4 separate regions of the Homo sapiens genome follow, and all the other regions are linked to region 1. Evidence: fine-mapped expression QTL. A gene starts in region 1. Each other region holds a variant in brackets. All regions are shown on one strand. Distances are from middle to middle. Region 1 holds the start of E2F3 (E2F transcription factor 3). Region 2 overlaps E2F3 (E2F transcription factor 3). Region 3 overlaps E2F3 (E2F transcription factor 3). Region 4 has its middle 25 kb from the start of CDKAL1.

Evidence for each region. PIP is the estimated chance that this variant, and not a neighbour inherited with it, causes the effect.
Region 2: its variant is the best candidate, but not a certain one, in a credible set for the expression of E2F3 in whole blood (TOPMed, PIP 0.90).
Region 3: its variant is the best candidate, but not a certain one, in a credible set for the expression of E2F3 in whole blood (INTERVAL, PIP 0.88).
Region 4: its variant is the best candidate, but not a certain one, in a credible set for the expression of E2F3 in whole blood (INTERVAL, PIP 0.88).

The regions. Positions count from the first base shown.
Region 1 is chr6:20,399,689-20,405,485 of GRCh38, forward strand. E2F3 (E2F transcription factor 3) reads left to right here and starts at 2,191. Exons shown (of 7, transcript NM_001949.5): 1 at 2,191-2,937. The coding sequence starts at 2,545. LOC124901482 reads right to left here and starts at 3,084. Exons shown (of 3, transcript XM_047419652.1): 1 at 2,737-3,084; 2 at 2,581-2,692; 3 at 1,053-2,474. The coding sequence starts at 3,084. The coding sequence ends at 1,867. RefSeq lists silencers at 1,766-2,005, 2,856-3,325, 3,526-4,145 and an enhancer at 2,104-2,628.
Region 2 is chr6:20,421,563-20,427,359 of GRCh38, forward strand. The region is part of intron 1 of E2F3 (E2F transcription factor 3); the gene reads left to right. It also overlaps the pseudogene RN7SL128P. Among named protein-coding and RNA genes, the nearest start is that of E2F3-IT1, 13 kb to the right of the region's middle. The variant A/G (reference allele first, on the strand shown) is at 3,355.
Region 3 is chr6:20,472,657-20,478,453 of GRCh38, forward strand. All of the region lies in intron 1 of E2F3 (E2F transcription factor 3), which reads left to right. Among named protein-coding and RNA genes, the nearest start is that of E2F3-IT1, 38 kb to the left of the region's middle. The variant C/T (reference allele first, on the strand shown) is at 3,116.
Region 4 is chr6:20,506,640-20,512,436 of GRCh38, forward strand. No RefSeq gene overlaps it. Among named protein-coding and RNA genes, the nearest start is that of CDKAL1, 25 kb to the right of the region's middle. The variant G/C (reference allele first, on the strand shown) is at 3,591.

The DNA of each region.
Region 1 (5,797 bases):
AGCTCAAGCCAGGATTCTATGCACAGCCCCAGTCCCAGGCTGGTCTCTAATCATAAGGCGCAGGTCTATAATTACTGTGTATGTTGCACCACTCCTCCCTCACAACCCCCACTACTGCCACCAAATGCAAGCTGCCAGTGATGCTCTGCAGATGGTAATATCCAAGTAGTGACAGTACTAGTTTCTTCCACAGGTATATCCATAGAGGAAAGCAACATTGATGGAACAAGAGCAGGGAAGCTGCTGGTATATTACACTTCTAGCTCATGCCCTTTGAGTACCACTTAATCTGCCCTAAAGATAGTGTCACTTCTGGCCAGGCGCGGTGGCTCATGCCTGTAATCCCAGCACTTTGGGAGGCCAAGGGAGGCGGATCTCCTAGGGTCAGGAGTTCAAGACCAGCCTGGCCAACATGATGAAACCCTGTCTCTACTAAAAATACAAAAATTAGCTGGGCGTGGTGGCACGTACCTGTAGTCCCAGCTACTCAGGAAGCTGAGGCAGAAGAATTGCTTGAACCCAGGAGGCAGAGGTTGCAGTGAGCTGAGATCGTGCCATGGCACTCCAGCCTGGGCAACAACAGCAAGACTCTGTCTCAAAAAATAAAGATAGTGTCACCTCTACCAGTGTCGACAAATGTTTAGGGCTATGGATCCTCAACTAGCCTGAATGCAAGACTAAAATATTCCTGAGCCTGGTGCAAGGTTTAATGGAACTTTTAACTCATCTGTTTCAGAAAAGGTAACAAGGCTAAAATATTAAGGAGTCCTAGCCTGATCTGACACATCTTGTCAGGTGTTTCATAGCACTCTGAGTAAGAGTTTTGGGAAATTAATAATAGTAATAAAAATCTTGTGAAAGGGCTCAAGGTGTTGCAATCCTCATCACCTATGAGCACCAATTCTGCAGCTGTTTTGCACGTAACTATAAATTATGATCTAGTCTCTACATACATAACTTCCCCCACATTCCTGCAGGGGTCTCTTTTCCTGCTCAATCTCAGGAGCAAGCTTTAATTTTAAGACCCATGAATACTTGAACAAATTCAGGAGTCAGTTTGACACATCATTTTATATTTTTCTGATGACAATTTCTAGTTTACTTTTTAAAAAAAGACACTATTTTAAAAATACTTTGGGATAGGTTTGAGTCGTTGTGTTTGCTTCCAGTCAGAGAACTTCCTACAAAACTGAAGATATAAAGTGCTGATGCCTGGGCGTGCCTGCGTTCGTTGGGGGCACGACGTCATCGTGGGAAGCGTGTACTTTTTCGGATTACTGCTTGGCGGATTAGAAACCCGTAGATCAGTTCTAGGTTAGCCCTGATTAACTGCCCTGGGTGTTTCTGGGCCAGAGGGAATGTCTGCTGGATTCAAACCAATATCCGTTGTAAGACAAAAGAGTTAATTTGTACTTTACCCCTATCCAGGCTAATAATGAAGGTACCGGGAATGATCTGGAATGTTAACTGGTGCCCGCAATCGCGTCTGCTGAACCTTCTGCCCCCACGATTCTGTCTGCCCACATGCTTCTGTCTATCAGCCCCGGCCTCGGGATCAGCTCTCGCCGCGTCATTGGTTGGATTTCAGGAAGGGAGAAGCCCACGATTTAAAGGGCTCCTTTTGCACCTGCCAGACATCGTCCGCATGGTCCAACTTGCCTTTGGCACGTATCTGGAAAAATCTCCTGCGCTGTTCGTTTATTGCACTGACTGGTCAAAGGAAAGAGTGTTCCCTTAGTCACCTTGACAATTTCCAAAAGCGAAACTTGGGCTCTAGACTAGATCTACACTGAGTCTGCGGGGCGCGGAGTCCCTGCCCAGGTCAGTAGCGCCGGCCCGGCGGGCGGGCGGGGACAGGGGCGGAGCCTAGGCCAGGCGTGGTCTTCCGTGGGAGAGAAGGAAATTCTTTGCCCCACCCCCTAAAAACTGCTCTTCTGCCAGCCAATCAAGGAGGCCTATGCAAATAGGGTCCCTGTCGCCCCGGTAACCATGATGCACGGCAGCCAATGGAAACCAGCAAGTCGCGGCCCTGCTCCATGATTGGGACTGAAGTAAGGAGGTAGCGGCCCAATGGGCTGTGGGAACGGTCCTCGGCGGGTTGAGGGGCGGGGATATGCAAATATGGTTTGAAAAGCCGGCGGGAAATCCGAGTTTCGCGGGAGGACCTTGGCGCGTAAACCGTATCCCTTCATTCATTGTCAGCAGCAGCTTCCTGGAGCCATTTTTCAGCTGCCGGCCGCAGCACCCGGGCTGCCGCCGCCGCCTCGCAATCCGTTGCATCGGCCGCCCCCGACGCCTCCATCCCCGCTTGGGGCCCGATATCCGTGCGGCCGGGACCCTCCTCTCTCCAGAGCCCCGATTATTTTTGGCCCCCGGGGCCTGTGCGGTGCGGAAAAATAAAAAGAAAAGAGAGAGAGGGGGCTCGGAAGCGCCGGGCGGGGAGGAGAGAAGGAGGAGAGACTTGGAAACTCCGACTGCAAATAATAAAGAAATTGAAAACAATACATTAATATACCATAACACTAAAAAGAGCAGGAGCGAGAGATGAGAAAGGGAATCCAGCCCGCTCTGGAGCAGTACCTGGTGACCGCCGGGGGTGGGGAGGGGGCGGCTGTCGTCGCCGCCGCCGCTGCAGCCTCCATGGACAAAAGGGCACTGCTAGCCAGCCCCGGCTTCGCCGCCGCCGCCGCCGCTGCCGCCGCCCCGGGCGCGTACATCCAGATCCTCACCACGAACACTTCCACCACCTCCTGTTCCTCCTCCCTCCAAAGCGGCGCCGTAGCCGCCGGCCCCCTCCTCCCCAGTGCCCCCGGCGCGGAGCAGACCGCCGGCAGCCTCCTCTACACCACGCCGCACGGACCCTCCAGCAGAGCCGGGCTGCTGCAGCAGCCACCAGCGCTGGGACGCGGCGGCAGCGGCGGCGGCGGCGGCCCTCCGGTAATACCCTCCCTCCCCACCGTCCCCAGCCCCGGCGGGAGGTGGGCTCGCACCGCGCGGGGTCGTGGGCGCGCTGCGGGCCGCTCGGGGAGAGCACTGGGCCGAGCATCGTGGGCCTCGGGGGCTGCCCCTCCAACGAGGGTTCATTGTTAGACCTGAGTGCTCTTCCCGGCGCCAGGAGGGTCGGGGGGCTCGGCCAGGCGCGCGGGGCGGCGGGGATTGCCTTGGCGCGAACCACATCAAACACTCCAAAACTTTTCGCGGCCCCCCCTTCTTTTCCTGCACTTTTCCCTACCCCCACTCTCCCTTCCCCTCCAACTCGAAGCTTCCTCTTTCTCGGGCGTAGGAAGGGGTCACGCCCCGGATGGAGAAGGGGGTGGGGGAGGGAGTAGTGAACTGGGGTGTGGGGGGCTCTGAGGGGTTGAAACCGGGGGACTGTTGGGGTGCTAGCCCCCAGTCGGCCTTGGAGGCTCGTTGGCGGCCGGGGGTCCCTGCGGCGTGCTCGGAGCGCAGGGGATCGGCGGGGCTGCGCTTGACACATTTTAGGATCTGTAACTCCCGGCAACAAAGGGGCTGGGGGAGGTGGAGGGGAGTCGGGCGTGGGGGAGGTGGGGCTGGAAGCCGGGTGCGGACTGGGGCGTGGGCTGTCTGGGGTGAGGGGCTCGCGGGCTGGCGCTCTGGCCTGGGCGCATCCTGGCAGTGGCAGCGGCGGCGCCCGCGTGGCCCAAGCGCCCAGGCCTTCCTCGCCGGGCCCCGGGCCTGCCCTTGACCCGCCTCTCCCCTTGCCCCTTCCTTCCCCGCCCTGTCCCCCTCTCCGCCCCCCGGCGACGGAGGGCGGGGGCAGCTGGGTTCCCGTCCCGCCGCCTGGGTCTGTCCCTCTCTCCGGGACCCGCCGGTGACGTTTCGCACACGTGCGCGCAGGACGCGCCTGTGACTGGGGAGGAGGCGGCGGCGGGAGGGGGCGCTGGAGGGGGAGAGGGGGGCACCCACTTCCTCCTGCTCGCCGGCTCCCTGGCCTGGGACGGTCCCGGCGCCCTCGCACCCGCCCCCGGCACCGCCACCCTCCCTCTCCTCTCCCCACCCCCCCACCGGCGCCCGCCCTCGCCCTGCGCCGCCGGTCTGTTCGGCCCTCCGGGCCCCCTCTCCAGCCGGCCCCCCACCTCCCCCCGGAGCCAGGCTGGTTTCGGAAATGCCCTTACAGCAGCAGGTTAGTGACCGGGACGGCTCGGGGGCCGCCGACGCCGCGGGGGCACCGGATTCTGTTGGGGGCTGAAGCGGTGAGGGTAGGCGGTTGAGCGGGGTTTTGGAGTGGGAACGGGGGGTTGGGTGCTCGAGGGAAATGAGTAAGCAAGAAAAATCTAACTAAGTAAATGCCCCGGCCTCCGGTTCTAGGAACCTCGGGGCGGGAGTGTCTGCCCCAGGGGGTGGGTATGGTGTTTACGTGGATTTTTTTTCTAGGGGGCGGATGGATGGGCGATAGAAAACCGGAGGGGGCTTCTCGCCAATGGCCGAGTTGAGCTCTGTTTTCTGTCTTCCTTCCCTTGTGCTGGAGGGGGAGGGGGGTGGGTCAGAGGGTAGGGTGTCTGTAGGATTCCCAGGCCACCCGCCACCCCCTCCCTTTGTCCCTGTAATTTATAAAGCGCCTTTGAGAGATGATTTAGGTCAGTATGCGGCTTCTCTTTTTGTTGGTACTAGAAAGAAGTGTGGCCCGGAGGTCTCCCCTTTCTCCTTTTCTCTCCTTCATTCCCTTCCTCCATGCCTCCGGGTCTTCACCCTCGTGGTGAGGCTTGGCCTCCACGGGGCTAGAACCGAACCAGACTCAGTTAGATCCATGGTAGCCTGATTATACCAGGCGTGGACCTCACCTTGTCTCAGCTCCAAATGGGTTTAATTTTTGGAGAATCAAGATTTTGCGGGAGTCTTTAAGAAAGTCAGCACATAGGCAGCACTTTGGGAAATGGGATGGGTTTGGGAATAATGAGGCGTTTTTTATTTCTTTCCTGTTCCCAGTTTCTCCCCGGGTTCGGTCTTAACTGCTTTCCAGCCCCAGAGATACTTGCTGGGCATGTGTGATGTAGTCTTAGTCAAAGAAGCTCATCGTTTTTTAGTGACTAGGGTCTGCCAGCAGGGGGGAAACGGAGCACAGTACCTGCTTAGACATAGCAGTATCCGGTGTGCTGGGTTTTCAGTCGCAAGAATATTCCATGCTTTTATTAGCTTCAGATACTCTTACTGACTTGACCTAAGCATGTTTGGACATATTTTAAGCATATTTGACCCCTGCACAGTTCTGTTACTATTTCATAAACCTAACCTTAAACAACCAGCTATTGACATACTTCTTGGATTAGATTCACAGATTTGCAGGGGGTAGTTTTGATAATGGGAAATTATGAGAGCTTCAAGTTGATTTTTAAAAAATTTTAACAGTGTTTGTTGGGCCAGGTCCCTAAGACTATCTTTCAAGCCAGGTTTATTATATCTAGTTCATTGTATTTAAGTATTTAAAGTATACTAAATTACCCTCACCATCTTCCAAGTTATTTCAAAACTTTATTCTCCTTGACATGAAATTATTATTCCAGGAATAATAATATCCTTTTGAGTTTATGTGCACACAAAAGGTTTTTCATTACAGGAATATAAATGTTACTCATATACATATTCAGAAGCATTTTTTATATGATTGCAATGTATGCTGAATCATTGGTTATCTGCATTTTTTTTTTTTTTTTTTTTGAGACGGAGTCTCATTCTGTCGCCCAGGCTGGAGTGCAATGGCACGATCTCGGCTCACTGCAACCTCCGCCTCCCGAGTTCAAGCATTCTCCTGCCTCAGCCTCCTGAGTAGCTGAGATTA
Region 2 (5,797 bases), 22 kb after region 1:
CTGAGCAGTAGTTATCAACAATGGGCTTAAAATAGTCAGTAAACCATGCTGTAAACAGATGTGCTGTCATTCAAGCTTTATTACTTCACTGATAGATCACAGAGTAGATTTAACATAGTTCTTTTTTCTGACCTGGGCTGGTTCACCCCTCCTTAGGCAACCTGGTGGTCCCCCACTCCCAGGAGGTCGCCATATTGATGCCGAACTTAGTGCGGACACCCGATCGGCATAGCGCACTACAGCCCAGAACTCCTGGGCTCAAGCTATCCTCCCACCTCAGCCTCCTGAGTAGCTGGGACTACAGGCATGTGCCACCGCGCTCGGCGATCTAGCATAGTTCTTAAGGGCCCTAGGGTTTTTGAAATGGTAAACGATCATTGGCTTCAACTTAATGTCACCAATTGCATTAGCCCCTAACCAAAGAGTCAGCCTGTCTTTTGATGCTTTGAAGCCAGATATTGACTTCTCCTCTCTAGCTATGCAAGTACTAAGTGGTATCATCTTCCAATAGAAAGCTGTTTCATCTACATTGAAGATCTGTTGTTTAGGGTAGCCACTTTCATGAGTGATCTTAGCTAGATCTTCTGAATAACTTGCTGCTGTTTCTATGTCAGCACTTGCTGCTTCGCGTTGCACTTTTATGATATGGAGAAGGCTTCTTTCCTTAAAGGTCGTGAACCAACTTCTGCTACCTTCCAACCTCTGCAGCTTCCTCACCTGTCAGCCGTCAAAAGAGCTGATGAGATTTAGGGCCTTGCTCTGGATTAGGCTTTGGCTTAAGGGAATGTTGTGGCTGGTTTGATCTTCTATCCAGACCACTCAAACTTTCTCCATATCAGTAATAAGGCTGTTTTGTTCTCGTGTCATTTGTGTGTTCATGGAGTACCATGTTTAATGTCCTTCAAGACCTTTCCCTTCACATTCACAACCTGGCTAACTATTTGGCACAAGTGGCCTAGTTTTTTGCCTATTTCAGGTTTTGACGTACATTTCCTCACCAAGCTTAATAATTTCTAGCTTTTGATTTAGAGGGAGGGATGTGTGATTCTTCCTTTCACCTGAACACTTAAGAGACCATTGTGGGATTACTAATTAGCCTAATTTCAGTATTCTTGTTTCTTAAGGAATAGGGAGGCCCGAGAAGAGGGTAAGAGACAGGGTACAGCTGGAAGGTGGAGCATTCAGAACACGCACAATGGCTATCAATTAAGTTTGCCATTATATATTGTTACTAAACATTATTTAGTGACATTAGTAATTGCAATAGTGACATCAAAGATCACTGATCACGGATCACCACAACAGACATAATAGTAATGAAAAAGTTTGAAATATTACGAGAATTACCAAAATTTGACAGAGATATGTAGTAAGCACTGTTGGAAAAATGGTGCTGATAGACTAGCTTGATGCAGGGTTGTCACAAACCTTCAGTTTGTAAAACACTGCAGTATCCGTGGAGCACAATGAAATGTGGTATCCCTGTATTGTTTTGCCCAAGCCTATTATGTTTCTTTTGATTTTTCTATGATGTATTTCTTTCTACATATGTTTATTTAGTTTTTATAATGTCATGTGTCACTTAACGATGGGGATATAGTCTGAGAAATGTGTCATTAGGAAATTTCATCATTTTGCAGACATCATAGAGAGTACTTACACAAACCTCATGGTATAGCCTACTATACCCCAAGGTTCTATGGTCTAGCCTCTTGCTCCTAGGCTACAAACCTGTACTGTATGTTACTGGGCTGAATACTGTAGGCAACTTAAACACAGTGGTATGTATCCAAACATAGCAACAGTATAGTAAAAATACAGTCTTATAATCTTATGGGACCACTGGAATATATACAGTCTGCTGTCGACTGAAAGCATCATTGTTTGGCAGATGACTACATGTGACATTACAGTGCTTTTTTTTTGAGACCAAGTCTTGCTCTTGTCGCCCAGGTTGGAGTGCAATGGCACGATCTCGGCTCACTGCAACCTCTGCCTCCTGGGTTCAACCGATTCTCCTGCCTCAGCCTCCCAAGTAACTGGGATTACAGGCGCCCACCACCACACCCAGCTAATTTTTGTATTTTTAGTAGAGACAGGGTTTTGCCATGTTGGCCAGGCTGGTCTCGAACTCCTCACGTCGTGATCTGCCTGCCTCGGCCTCCCAAAGTGCTGGGATTACAGGTGTGAGCCACCACACCCGGCCATTACAGTGCTTTTTTTGAGACAGAGTTTCGCTCTTGTTGCCCAGGCTGGAGTGCAATGGCCTGATCTTGGCTCACTGCAACCTCTGCCTCCCGAGTTCAACCGATTCTCCTGCCTCAGCCTCCCGAGTAGCTGGGATTACAGGTACCTGCCACCATGCCCGGCTAATTTTTTGTATTGTTAGTAGAGATGGGGTTTCACCATGTTGGTCAGGCTGGTCTCGAACTCCTGACCTCAGGTGATCCACCCACCTCGGCCTCCCAAAGTGCTGGGATTACAGGTGTGAGCCACTGCACACAGCCGAAATTACAGCTTTTACAGTTTGAGTTTGGTGGCTTGCTTTGGGAAGGCCTTTCCTAATCTGCAAACCATAACAATATTCTATATATTTTTTCTCCTGGCTTCATAATTTTATTATTTTGATCTTTAACCTCAGTGGAAGGGTGTGTGTGTGTGTGTGTGTGTGTGTGTGTGTGTGTGTGTTTTAAAGGTGTGACTTTATTTTTCCTAAACGAATAGCCAGTTAAACTAGTGCCATTTATTGGATGGTTCCGCTTTCCCCACGCATGCACTTGAAATGCCCTTTTCTCAGAGAGACACAGAGAGAGTGTGTGTATGTGTGTGTGTGTGTGTGTGTGTGTGTACATGCATACATGCATGTATGTGCTGTGTGCATGTGTGTCTGTGTTGTTCTGTCTCTGAACTTTCTACTCTGCTCCATTGATACCTTTATCCCTTTGTAAAGAAGCAGCACACTGTTTTGAATACAGTAGCTTTGTGATATGATTTGCTATAGATAAGGAAAATCTGCTTCCTGTTACATACTTTTTTTTTTCATTAAAATTACAGTTTTTATGTTCATGCTTACTTGCATTTTTACAAATTGAGCTTCTTCTCCCCCATCCACTGTGAGTTTAGGGTTATAAGAAAAAAAACTCTCTGCACTTATTAGATAGTCTACTGCACTGGGAATAGCAGTAAGCTGTTTACATTTTTTCTTTCATCTGATACAACAAACCTTGAGAGTTGGTGCCAATATCCTCATCTGTAGATGAGGAAAGTGAGGCTCAGTGATGAAGCAGTTTGTCCAAGGCTGCATTTCTGGACATTGGCAGAACCAGGGTTCCAGACCAAGTCCAGGAAATTTCG[A/G]AACCTCTCTTAACCATTATGCAACCCAGACACGTGGGGTTTTCTCACATGACGAGGGCAGGCCATTGTCTAGGGCGGGTTATCAGGTGTTTCTCCATGTCCTGCAGGGCGGTCAGTGGCTTTTACAGAGTAGAGTGTTTATTGCATGAAGGGAAGACCTAGCAAGATCTCTCTAAAGGATTTATCCATTGGGGCAGCAAGAGTTGAAAAATTTGGCTTTGCCAAGGGTATTTGTTCAGATTTAGGATACAAGTCAAGTTGGGACCACAGGCTAAAGTTTAAGTGAGTGGGGAGAGAAATTATTTACCCAGTGCTTTTTTTTAATGCCAGACACTGTAACCCTTCCTCGGCTCTTTTCTAGAGTTGGGTCTGTGGTTTGGAATACAAAGGTGAGGAATACACAGCCCTGGACATTCAGAATGGGGCAGTAGGCTGGGAGGAGCTGTGCGCACAACCCCAGGAACCTTCTACTTTTTTTTTTTTTTTTTTTGAGACAAAGTCTCGCTCTGTCACCCAGGCTGGAGTGCAGTGGCACGATCTTGGCTCACTGCAAACTCTGCCTCCTGGGTTCAACCGATTCTTCTGCCTCAGCCGCCTGAGTAGCCAGGACTACAGGCGTACGCCACAATGCCTGGCTAATTTTTGTATTTTTAGTAGAGACGGGGTTTCACCATGTCGGCCAGGCTGGTCTTGAACTCCTGACCCTAGGTGATCTGCCCGCCCGCCCCGCCTCGGCCTCCCAAAGTGCTGGGATTACAGGCGTGAGCCACTGCGCCCGGCCCCTTCTACCTTTTAGAAGAAAATGCAACAACGTGTCTTAGCTCTCTAGTGGAGGAACAGAGGTCTCAGGTGGATCCAGAAATGCTTTGCTATAGAGTGGCATTTAAACTGGGACATTCATGTGTCTAAATTACCTAACAGTTTGAGCCCTCCCTTCCCCCGAGGTGGTTGCTTCTTCATTTGAATTCTCTCAGGTGCCTTCTGTTGGTTCTTAGAGGTGAACATCAGAAAAGTAATTTTCTTTGGAGAAGTTTGAAGCAGCCTCCCAAACAGAAGTCCTGTTGAGCTCCCACTGGGAGTTTTGGAAAAGTAATCTCATTTATTAGGAATAGTGTATTGATTTTGTGTGTAAAATGGACTAAGAGGCCTGTGACAATGAGTCCATTTGAAATTGCAAATTTAAATATCTAATACAATAGTTGTGCGGAAATACTACACCAGAATATAAATGATTAGCTGCTTAGTGAATTTCTCATGTGCATGTAATTAATTGGCAGTGGTGGTGGGGATCAAGTTTGTTTTCATATCCTGAGTCCTTTAATTTACCTTTTCTTCAACAATTACTGGTGTAAGTATAGGGGAATTAAATCTTAGTGTCTTTTATAAAAATATATAGTTTTGCTTTGTCATTCATTTATTGTTTTTTGGTCTACATTATCCAATTTTGTATTACACAATAGAAGGCACCTAATCAAAGATTTCTTGTTTTTACTGCATGATTGCACTCTTAATTTTGTGAAAGCATAGGTTTACTTCCAGACTGAGAGGTAAATGAATAATTATTTTGTGATTTATTTAGCACTTGCCGCCCCAATCTTGTTTTTCACGTCTGCAGTTATGGCTGAAATATCTTATTCCATTCCCAGCCTCTCTGTTGGTGGTATCTGCCTGATCTCCACCTAGTGTCATTGTGGGATCGTGGCCACACATGGGCCTTCCAGGGCTGTGCTGTTGGTGACCAGTGGTGCTTGTAACCCTGAAGTGTTGGCATGGCCTCAGCTGACTGGGCTTTCCCTCATGCCCAGGGCTTAAACTTGAACTCTGCCTGCTCTGTTAGCAGTTTTTCTCTACATTTCTTTTAAAATAGACTTTCACTTCTTCCTTCCCATCCCCCCCAATACAACTGCCCTGGCATCCTGGCTTTTTCCATTCTTGACAAATGATCTGTCCACTGTAACTGTAGCTCCACTGTGCTGATATCTGTTGAAATTAGACCTAGAATCTAAATGTGGCTCCATGAAACTATGGGTGAGACATTTTTTTTCTTCAAATAGTCTATGGTTTATTGGCACCCCAAACCACCTATCCATACCTTCTCCACTGTGATGCTGGGGGAAGAAAATGGGGTAATATATGTGTAAAAGTGACTGAGAATGAAAAGTTCTGCATAAGGTACAATGTTAGCTGGGGTTTTTGCATATATAATAAGAAGACAAATGTTCACTACCACTCCTGCCTGCCTTCCCTGGGCATATCGAACTGATTCCAGCCTAATAGCATTTCTTATCATATAATGGGAATCACAAACCCTCCCTATGTCCACTCCTACAGCGCCTTCTTACCCTAATGAGGCTTTGTAACTCAAAGATTTAAACATCTCATTTATGCTCCATTGACTGAGTTAACCAAACACTTTGTATTTGGCCCTTTCCTCTTAGAAGTT
Region 3 (5,797 bases), 73 kb after region 1:
CCCTGTCTCTAAAAAAATAAAAAATAAGAATTCTAGTATCTGTCCCTTGTTAACTGAGACCTCGGGTAAATCCTTAACTTCTGTCTCAGTGCAAGCTGGGTGTAATAATACCTACCCCACAATGCCAGCATGATTATTCATTGGAAAAATGATTATAGGAGAGGAGTATTGAATGTCCATTAGTATATGTCTGCTTAAGTAAATAAATCGTGGCATATTAATTAATACAATATTATGCAGCTATGAGAAATGAGATCATTCCATGTGTTCTGATAAGGTCTAACTCGGACATATGTTATTAATAGAAAAGTGTGTGTTTTGCTACGATTTATGGGAAAAACTTTTTAAAGATGGGATGGTAGATAGTCTAGGTAAATACAAGTATGTATATAGCTATCTGAAAGGATATCCAAGTAACTTCATAGTGCTTGCCTTTGAGGAAGGGAACTGGGATCAGGAGTAGGGAGAAAGTTTGCTTTCCATTTATACTCATTTATGCTGCTTAAATTACCATATACATTTATTATATGTAAAGAAGAGTTTTTAAATCAGGAATAAAATAAAGTGTGTCATTAAGGCAATATCAACTTAATCTAGCTATTCAAATATTTTTACATGGGACTTTTCACAATCTTTTCATGAAGTAGTTATAAGCATGGACTTGTAGGTGTGCTTACTGGCTATAGAATCTTGGAAAAGTCAGTTAATCACACTAGACCTCCCTTTTCTTCTATAAAATAAGAATTAATAATAGCCACCTTATTAAGGGTGTTGTGAAAATAAGATAACAAAATTGAGTGGAAAACAGTTAACATGGTGCGTAGCATATTATAAGCACTCAAATATTTGTTGTGTAATAATTAATACTAAAGGTCTGTATCTATCAGTGGTATTAATAATAATCTAATTCAGCTGCCTTATACCAAAAAGGGATATTTGTGGGCTCACACAAATGAAAGTCTGTGGCATGTGTGCCTTTGGGTATGGCTGTATCTAGCACCTCCCTTGAAGGGATTGGGACTCAGCCTTTCCCCAGCTCTTCTGTGTTGGCTCACTTCCCAAGTAGCTCCAGGCTCGCACCCTACTGGCCTAATAATGCCCAGTGAAAAGAACCCAGTACTTTCCCAGTGGTTCCCAAGAAAAATCCCAGGATTGACTGACCCTTCCTGCATTGGTCATGGTCTCATCTTTACCCCAGACACTTGAGCCTTGGGATTGAGGCCAGGATTCAGTACTCACCTCTGCAACTTTGATGGGAAGAGTCGTCCTAATGTTGATCAGTCTCAAGTCTTGTCTTTTCATGCTTGGAGACTAATAGAAACTAAGAACATCAGTAGAGCTCCTTCCCCAGTGGAAAAAAAATAGGGGCAACAAATATCAGGCAGGCAGACTATAGATGTTCCCCACTGGCTCCAGTGGTAATTCTTTTGGGGTTTTGTGGTTTTTTTTCGTTTTGAGAGAGAGAGATGGGAGACTTGCTGTGCTGCCCAGGTTGGTCTCAAACTCCTGGGCCCAAGTGATCCTCTTGCCTCAGTCTCCCAAGTACCTGGGACTACAGGCGCATTACCATTGCACCCAGCTCTAACTACATACATTTTCCTACATAGATTTTCAGAACTGCTTACCAGTACAACTGTTTCTTTGCAGAGGCATGTTAACGTCCATGGGGCTGAGGTTTTAACGTTAGCACATACCTTGTTTATAGTACAAGTTACCCTTGAAAGTACTGCCGGAAGGTGCCACATGGAGTTCCACACAGAATCTCACAGAGCCAGGCTTTACCACTGCTTGGAACCAAATGGCCCATCCTTCTGTTGATTACTGGATAAGTTGGCTGTTTTACTGGTAGGGGCCATGTAATGTAAAGATCTGTGCATAAACAATGAATACCTCTCCAATCAGTACGATGCTCACGCTGTGAACTAACAAAAATTGAGATGACCAAGAGAAGAGATTTCCATCTACCCTGGTGCTCAGCCCAGGGCAGGGTGGTGTAGACAGAGCTCACCCGCACTATTTAAATCCTGTCATATAGTTTTTTGTTTTACCAGGCATGTGTGCTTGAATTTGCTAAGTTAAGCATTAAAATAATGCTGCTCCATCAAATATCAAAATTCTTAGCCCTTTTTCAAGAGATTCTAATTATTGCACCCATGTTCAGATCTGAGACCAAACAGGTAATATGTGGTCCCCACAAATCCAGTTCCGCCCTCCCTGTTCACTCAACAGGGGAGGAAAAATAACAGGATAACCCAACGGGAACCTCCCTTCTGAAAAGGGGAAATGACATAAAGTGCTCACCTCCTGCTTCTTGTCATGTCCTCCACAGGGACAGCAGTTTGTAGAGCCTATAAGTCCACCCCAAGTTCCACCTCCTGGGAGGAATTCTGGGGCTGCCCCTTCTTCACACCTCACTTATTTCTGGCGTGGCTTTTGGACCTAGTGATTGATTTCCTTAGAGGTTCAACATCATGGACCTTCACTTTCTAGACTTAGTGATTCTTTCGCAATAAAAGTGCCTTGCAATTTTAGTAGCTTGTCCATCTAGCATTCAAATTTGGTCAATTTATGGTTTGGTGCTTAGTAACGAGAGTTACACATGAAGACTAGTCCCGGTCTTTCGAAGTTAAGTCTCAGTCACTTAGCAGCAGACATGGAAATTTCCCTAACCTACAGTTTAATGGTTCCATAGGCCTTTGCCTCATGGCAGTCTGAAACAGCAGCCTGGGAGGGAGAGATAAAACTAGTATGCCCCCAGCCTGCTGACCAGTGGGTGGTTCTTTACTGCTGAGGCACGGCCCTAGGTCCCTAGGAGTTCTGGGTCCCAGACTCTTTTCCAAGTTTGCCTTCTTTCTGTTCACTTTATTTTCATTTTTTGAGACAAGAGTCTTTCTCTGTCATCCAGGCTGGATTGCGGAGGCACCAACCTCCACCTCCCAGGTTCAAGCAATTCTCATGCCCCAGCCTCCCAAGTAACTGGAACTACAGGTGCATGCTACCATGCTGGGCTACTTTTTGTATTTTTAGTAGAGTTAGGGTTTCACCAGGCTGGTCTCAAACTCCTGACCTCAGGTGATCTGCCTACCTCGGCCTCTCAAAGTGCTGGGATTACAGG[C/T]GTGAGCCATTGTGCCCAGCCCATTTGTTGACTTTAATTTGGGCAGAGAATACAGCTCTATGTCTCCTTAGATTGCTTTCTGTAGAGAAGGCCTCCATAGCAAAGCTGTTTTCTTTGAGGCGGGCCAGCCTCAGATGAAGTTTCTCTCTATCTGTAGTATCTTCCTGGCGGTCACAAGAAGTGACCAACACACTCTGCCACTCTCTAACAAGGCCTGCCAACTCCCTGTCACACCATAGCCATCTTGACTCAGCCAGTTCCATAAGCTGTCACTGGCAACAGCACAATTCTAGGTTCCCGACTCAAAACACTTGAAGCAGCTGGGCACGGTGGCTCACGCCTGTAATCCCAGCACTTGAGGAGGCCGAGGAAGGCGGATCACGAGGTCAGGAGATCAAGAAGATCCTGGCTAACATGGTGAAACCCCGTCTCTACTAAAACTACAAAAAATTAGCCGGGCGTGGTGGCGGACGCCTGTAGTCCCAGCTACTCGAGAGGCTGAGGCAGGAGAATGGCATGAACCCGGGAGGCGGAGCTTGCAATAAGTTGAAATTGCACCACTGCACTCCAGCCTGGGTGACAGAGCGAGACTCCGGGTCTCAAAAAAAAAAAATGCTTTAAGCAAAAAGGAGAGTTTATTGGCTAATGTAACTGGAAAGTCTGGGAAAGACCAACAGTTGCCCCCAGGGCATGACCAGAGCCAGAGTTTTGAGTGGTGGTCTCAGACCCCTCTCTCTCCTTCTCTCCACTCTGCTTTCCCCTGGGAAGGCCCCATTCTCAGGCAGCTTTAGGCTCCTCACTTACCAACCTTACTGGAAAGACATACCTGCTTCTTGCCAGATAGTTCCAGAAACATTCCTGGGGTTAGCCTTTGCTCCTCCAGCCTTGGTCATAAGCCATTCAACCTGTTCGCGGTGGGGGCGGGGAGGGCAGGATGGGCCACAATGATTAGCCAGGCCTGGATCACCTGTGTGCACAGATGCGCTTAGACCAGGAAAGGGATGGCTCCCCAAGGAACAAACAGGGAGCTTCTGCCTGATAAAGAGTGAATGTTTGCTGGACCAACCACAGCAGGCCCACACAAGGACTTGACAGAATGGCTGGGAGGGGAAGATGAAGTCCAGCAAGCAGATTGTCCTTCCGGAGCCATTAGAATGATGTTTAACTTAGCACTGCAGTAGAAAGATAAGGTGTGCCACTGAGGCAAGCCACATCGTAAAATATATATATAAAGAAACAGATGAAATAATTTTAATGCTACATCTGACCCATTAACAACATTGGGGTTAGAGGTGCCCTGACACAGTCAAAAATTTAGATAGATCTTTTGACTCCCCTAAACTTAACTAATAGCCTGTTGTTTGGGGTTTTCATTATTATTTTAGTGATGGGGGGTCTTGCTACGTTGATCAGGCTGGTCTTGAACTCTTGGCCTCAAGTCATCCTCCTGAGTAGCTGGGATTACAGGTGTGATCCATGCACCCAGCCCTAATAGCCTACTGTTGACTAGAAGCCTTACCAATAACATAAACAGTCATTAACACATTTCATATGGTATATGTATTATATACTGTATTCTTACAATGAAGTTAGAGAGGAAATGTTATCAATAAAAGAAAGTTTGGAATGAATGAAAGTGGAATCCACAGGATAGATTTCCCTCATCAGCCAAGCAGGACTAGAGGTGAGGGTGTGTGAAATAGGCCGTGCTGGGCAGAGCTGGGCTTTGCCTGAGTGTCTTACTCTTTTCCCTTATGATCTAAAGCCAGGTTTCTCCAACTTTAAGGTGTATCAGAATCACCTGGAAGGCCTGTTAGATTGCTCAGCCCCATTCCCAGAGTTTCTGATCCAATGCATCTTAGGTATGCTCTGGAATTTGCGTTTCCTAGCAGCTGAACTTGGTCCAGGGTTCAAAGTGTAGAAGGCATATGGGCATATAAAGCAGCTGGATGAAAAAAAAATCATAAGGAAGAGAAAATAGATTTACTATTCATTACTGGAAGTGGATCATCATAAAATTCATCCTCGTTATCTTCACATTGAGGAAGGTGTGGTGAAAGAAAAGAGGAGGGGTTGGTCTTACTGTCTCAGGGATGACAGAGGAAGAAGAAAACCCACATATAGGTGGACACACTCATGGCCGGGTGCAGTGGCTCACGGCTGTAATCCCAGCACTTTGGGAGGATGAGGCAGGAGGATCACTTGAGCCCAAGAGTTCAACACCAGCCTGGGCAACATACAGAGGCCCCATCTCTACCCAAAAAAAAAAAAATTTAAATTAGCCAGACATCATGGTGTGCACCTGTGGTCCCATCTACTCAGGAGGCTGAGATGGGAGGATTCCTTGAGCCTGGGAGGACAAGGTTGCAGTGAGCTGAGATCACACCACTGCACTCCAGCCTGGGCGGCAGAGCAAGACCCTGTCTCTAAAAAAATAAAATCAGTGGAAACGGACAGTCCAAACCCATGTTGTTCAAGGGTCAGTTGTATTTTATTTATTTCATTTAACATGTGATCACTACTAAAATTGTTGAGATATTTTACCCTGTTTTGTACTAAGTCTTCGAAATTCAGTGTGTATTTTACAATTATAGCACATGTCAGTTTGGATGAGCTAGTAACCAGTGGCTATCGTAGTAGACGGTGCAGGGTTAGCTGGTAACTTTCCATAGAGGGGCTGAA
Region 4 (5,797 bases), 110 kb after region 1:
GAGTGCAGAGGTACGATCTAGGCTCACTGCAGCCTCCGCCTCCCAGGTTCAAGCAATTCTCCTGCCTCAGCATCCCGAGTAGCTGAGACTACAGGGCTGAGCCACCACAACTGGCTAATTTTTGTATTTTTAGTAGAGATGGGGTTTTGCCATGTTGGTCAGCCTGGTCTCAAACTCCTGACCTCAAGTGATCCACCTGCCTCAGCCTCCCAAAGTACTGGGATTACGGGCATGAGCCACCACACCTGGCCAGGACTACTTTTTTTTTTTAAATCAGGGCAAGGGAGTAACATGATAACAGAAGTAAAAATGGAGATGATGCTCTGGCCTCCTCCTTTTTGGCATGTACTTTGTAAAGCTGCTGCACTCAAGGACTGCTTCAGGGACACCAAATGGACAACATGGAAAACCTCAACTCATAGTGAATATCCTATTGCTGCATTTACCAAAAATATAGTGGTTGCAATGTAATCTCCTACACTTAATTATATAGAGCTATTATTATTATTATTATTATTATTATTATTATTATTATGTTAAGACAGAGTTTTGCTCTTGTCACCCAGGCTGGAGTACAGTGGTATGATCTTGGCTCACTGCAAACTCCACTCCCGGGCTCAACTGATTCTCCTGCCTCAGCCTCCCAAGTAGCTAGGATTACAGGCATGTGCCACCACGCCTAGCTAATTTTTGTATTTTTAGTAGAGATGGGGTTTCGCCATGTTGGCCATGCTGGTCTCGAACTCCTGACCTCAGGTGATCCACCCACCTCGGCCTCCCAAAGTGCTAGGATTACAGGCCTGAGCCACCGCGCCCAGCTATGCCAGCCATGTTTATTGAACAGATTCAGATGTCATCTCAAAGACCCTCTTCTCTTGGCTCTGTTTTTGCTCTCAGCTCTTCTCTTATTTTTGCCTCGATTTTCAGCTCTACCACCCCAGAACAAAGGCCCACTTTTAGAAGTCAACATTTTTGAAGATCTGAGGAAAAGAGCATATGTTTTAAGATGGTAAAAGAAGAGCAATTTAAGCTGGTAAAAAAAAATGTCTGGAGGTGTTTAACAGCTCAATGTTTTGCAGCATTGAGCACTTGACTTTCATTATGCTTCGAATGGTAAGAGATTGATGATACATGCTGGGCTTCTTTTAAACCCGTAAACAGGACTACTGAAATGGAAGGGCTGTGGGAATCGTGTCATATGAGGACTTTTGAAAGACTACAAACTGCTCATTTTAGAATCATTAAAAATGAAAGACATTGGTCTTGGCTCAAGGAAAAGGAGATCAAGAATTTTGACAAGCGCTTTCTTTATTAACTCACACTCTTCCCATAAAGTCCTGTTAAATAAACTTAAAAACAAATTAGTGAGGCAATTAAGAAATGAAAAATGAGAATTGTTTTGAAGGTAATATGTACACAGGAATGAGGTTAGTGTATAAAATGCATCTGTAAGGTACTGCACATTTGCTAGAAAAGAAACACTAATTAAAGTCCAACCTCTCTAGAACCAAAAGAGAGAAATATGATATATTACATGATTCAGAGTTTATGGGATAAAACAAACCAAGGCTCAGAAGAAGGCCTAACTATTCTTGGTTCTGAGATTCTGAGATCACAATTTATCTGAGGTTCTTCACAGAGCAACACTGTTTAAATGTAGTAGGCAACAAAAGTAGTTCAATTCCACAAATGTTTGAGTATCTGGATGTTTCAATGAGGGTGTTTTTCGTTGAGATTAACATTTACATCAGCGGATTTTGAGTAAAGCAGACTTCCCTCCCTGATGTGAGTGGGTCTCACATGATCAGATGAAGGCAAGTAGAACAAAAGACTGACCTTGGAACAGGAGCGGATTCTGCCAGCAGACAGCCTTTGGACTTGAACTGCAATATCCACTCTCCCCTGGGTCTCCAGTCTGCCAGCCCAACCTAAATATTTGCATTTACCAGCCTCTATAATCTCAATCTCTCAATCTCTCTCTCTCTCTCTCTCTCTCACACACACACACACCACACACACACACACAAACACACACACGTATACTATGGGCTTTGTTGTCTGGAGAACCCTGACTAATACAGCATCTATGCAGTAGAAACCTTCTCAGTGTCTGTTCTTCCTCCACTATCAAACCACAGGGTGAGGCCAGGGCACAGTGGCTCATGCCTATAATCCCAGTGCTTTGGGAGGCCAAGGCTGGAAGATTGCTTGAGGCCAGGAGTTTGAGACCAGCCTGGGCAACATATAGCAAGACCCCATCTCTAAAAAAAGTTGTTTTTTAATTAGCCTGGCATGGTGGTGTGCACCTGTAATCCCAGCAACTTGGGAGGCTGAGGCAGGAGGAGCCCTCGGGCCCAGGAGTTTGAGGATACAGTGAGCTATGAGGACACCACTGCACTCCAGCCTAGGCGACAGAGTAAGATCTTGTCCCCCCAAAAAACATTAAAAACCAAAAAAATACTCTACACAGTCACAGGCGAGCCCTGTTATTACACAACCCTCCCTTCCTAGACTCAACTGACTGAACCCAGTACCCTCCCCAGAGATTGGAATTGGGGTTAAGAGATATTAGTGTCTATCTCAAATGAAGGAGATGTAGCCATCAGGAGGGCTGCTCAGCTATCTTCCAAGTGAATTGAATAGCAGAGAAACGCCTGGCAATTAGAGAAGAAGGGAGCTCAGGCATTGAGAGAAACAGATGAGAGAAGAGAGAGCAATGGGTTCCTGGGCTTCCTGAAGCCAGCTGCACTCTGGCTCTGGAATTCTCATTACCATAAATCCTTCATTGCTTAATTGGGCTTGAGTTTGTTTCTACTACTTGCAACCAGAAGATTCTAACTAATGTATCCGGTGTGTCAGATAATTTGCCAGCCACTAGGGAATCAGAGATTTAAAAAATAAATAAATAAATAAATAAATCATTAAAAAAGACCTGGTTCCTTCCTGCAAGAGATTTCCACTAAGTCCCTTTCTTGCAAGTCCTTCCAAGGGAGGGATATATATGTAAGAGATAAAATCTATACAATATATAATAGAAAGTGAGGAGACAGTGTTGCCAGATTCAGAAAACAAAAACAGGGTGCCTAGTTGAATTTGAATTTCAGAAAAACAATGAGTAATTTTTTGGTATAAGGGTGTCCCGAATATTTTACCTGGACCTCAGATATATATTGTACATTAAAGAAAGGAGACTTAACCCAAACTAAGCCATCTGAGAAATCTTATTAATTTATTTAGTTATTTGGTTAGTTCTCTCCTGGAGAAAAGAAGGCTTGGGTCGAATTTTGAAGCATAAGTAAGAATCCACAGCGGGCTGGGCATGGTGGCTCATGCCTGTAATCCTAGCACTTTGGGAGGTCGAGGCAGGCAGATCACCTGAGGTCAGGAGTTTGCGACCAGCCTGGCTAACATGGTGAAACTCTGTCTCTACTAAAAATACAAAAATTAGCCGGGTGTGGTGGCACATGCCTGTAATCCCAGCTATCCAGGAAGCTGAAGCAGGAGAATCACTGGAACCTGGGAGGCGAGTGAGCAGTGTGAGCAACTGCCTTCTGCAGTTGTCAGAGGACCAGGGAAATGTTTTCACCAGG[G/C]GAATGGTTTTATTATATTTGTATTGTAGATAGATCACTGGCTGCAGTGTGAAAAACAATTTGGGGGAAACAAGATTAGAGGCAGGGAACCATTTAGGAATCTGTTTAATAGTCCAGATAGGAGTTGATGGGGACCTGAGCTAAGGCAGTGGGAGTAGGAATAAAGGAAATACTCTGAAAGTCTTTAGAAGATATAGTCATTGGAACTTAATGATTGATTGGATGTGAAGAGTGAAAAGTAAAATCAGTCAAGGATAATGTCCAGGTTTCTGATGTGTTTGACTGTTGTTGTTTTAACTGTGTGGGTTGTGTTAGTAATGGATTTTGAAAAACAGAAGGAGAAGCAGATTTGGTTAAAATTAACATTAAAAAAGAAAAAATAATAGTAATAAGAATAACAGCAGGCTGGGCGTGGTGACTCATGCCTGTAATCTCACACTTTGGGAGGCTGAGCTAGGAGGATAACTTGCGGCCAGCAATTTGAGACCAGCTTGGGCAACATACTGAGAACCTGTCTCAAAAAAAGAAAAGAAAAAAATAGCTGGATGCCATGAGGCGTGCCTGTAGCCCCAGGAGGCTACTCAGGAGGCTGAGGTAGGCGGATTCCTTGAGCCCAGGATTTCAAGGCTGCAGTGAGCTGTGGTCAGGCCACTGCATTCCAGCCTGGGCAACAGAGTGAGACCTTGTTTCAAAAACATTTTTTAAAATTAAAAAAAGAACAGCAGCTGGGCGTGGTGGCTCACACCTGTAATCCCAGCACTTTGGGAGGCCGAGGTGGGCGGATCATGAGGTCAGGAGTTCGAGACCAGCCTGGCCAACATGGTGAAACCCCATCTCTACTAAAAATACAAGAATTAGCTGGATGTTGTGGCATACGCCTGTAATCCTAGCTACTCAGGAGGCTGAGGCAGGAGAATTGCTTGAACCCAGGAGGCGGAGGTTGCAGTGAGCTCAGATCACACCATTGCACTCCAGCCTGGGCAACAGAGTGAGATTCCATCTCAGAAAAAAAAAAAAAAAAAAAAAAAGAACAGCAAATAATAATGGATGACATTTATTTTCTATTATATGCTATCTATGATTTTATTTTATTCTTTAAAATATCTATATCTATTATATAATTTAATGTTATAGACATTCTGAGACATGGATTTTTTTTGAGACAGAGTCTTACTTTTGTCACCCAGGCTGGAATGCAATGGCTCAATCACAGCTCACTGCACCCTCGACTTCCCAAGCTCAGGTGATGCTCCCACCTCAGCCTCCTGAGTAGCTGGGACTATAGGCACATGCCACCACACCAGGCCAGTTTTTTGTATTTTTAGTAAAGATGGGGTTTTGCTATGTTGCTCAGGCTGGGCTCAAGCGATCCACTCACCTTGGCCTCCCAAAGTGCTGGGATTACAGGCATGAGCCACCTGACCAAGCCTTATTAGACCCTTTTGACAGATGAGAAAACTGAAGTATAGCAAGGTTAAGTCACTTGTCCAAACTCACAGACAATACCCTTAATGAACAGTGTTATTGTTATTACAGCAAATTAGGATTCTTATAATGTCTGCTTTAATCTACTACTGCATGACTACATACCTCAAAACTTATTGTCTTAAAACAGAAGTAAACATTTATTTTTTCATACAGTTTCTGTAGTCAGCAATTCAGGAGCAGCTTAGTTGGGGTGGTTCTGGTTTGGGTATTTCATGAGGTGGCAGTCAGGGTGGCAGCCAGGGTGGTAGTTATTTGAAGGCTTGTCTAGGGATGGAGGATTTACTACAAGCTGGCTCATTCTGATAGTTGGCAAGTTGTACTGGCTGTTGGCAGGAGGCTCAGATCCGCCCCATGTGGACTTCTTCATAGGGCTACTTAAGTGAGTGTCCTCATGACATGGCCATCGACTTCCCCAGAGCAAATGATCCAAGAGAGAATCACTGGGACCTGGGAGGTAAGTGAGCAGTGAGCTACAACAAGGCATATGCTACAATGTCTTCTGTGATGTAGCCTCAGAAATCACACAGTGTCATTTTGTCAATATCCTGTTGGTGATACTAGTCTGCCATATTCAATGTGGGATGGGAATATATAAATACAAAGGTAGACCAGGAGCGGTGGCTTACGCCTGTACTCCCAACACTTTGGGAGGCCGAGGCGGGTGGATCACAAGGTCAGGAGATGGAGACATCCTGGCTAACACGGTGAAATCCCATCTC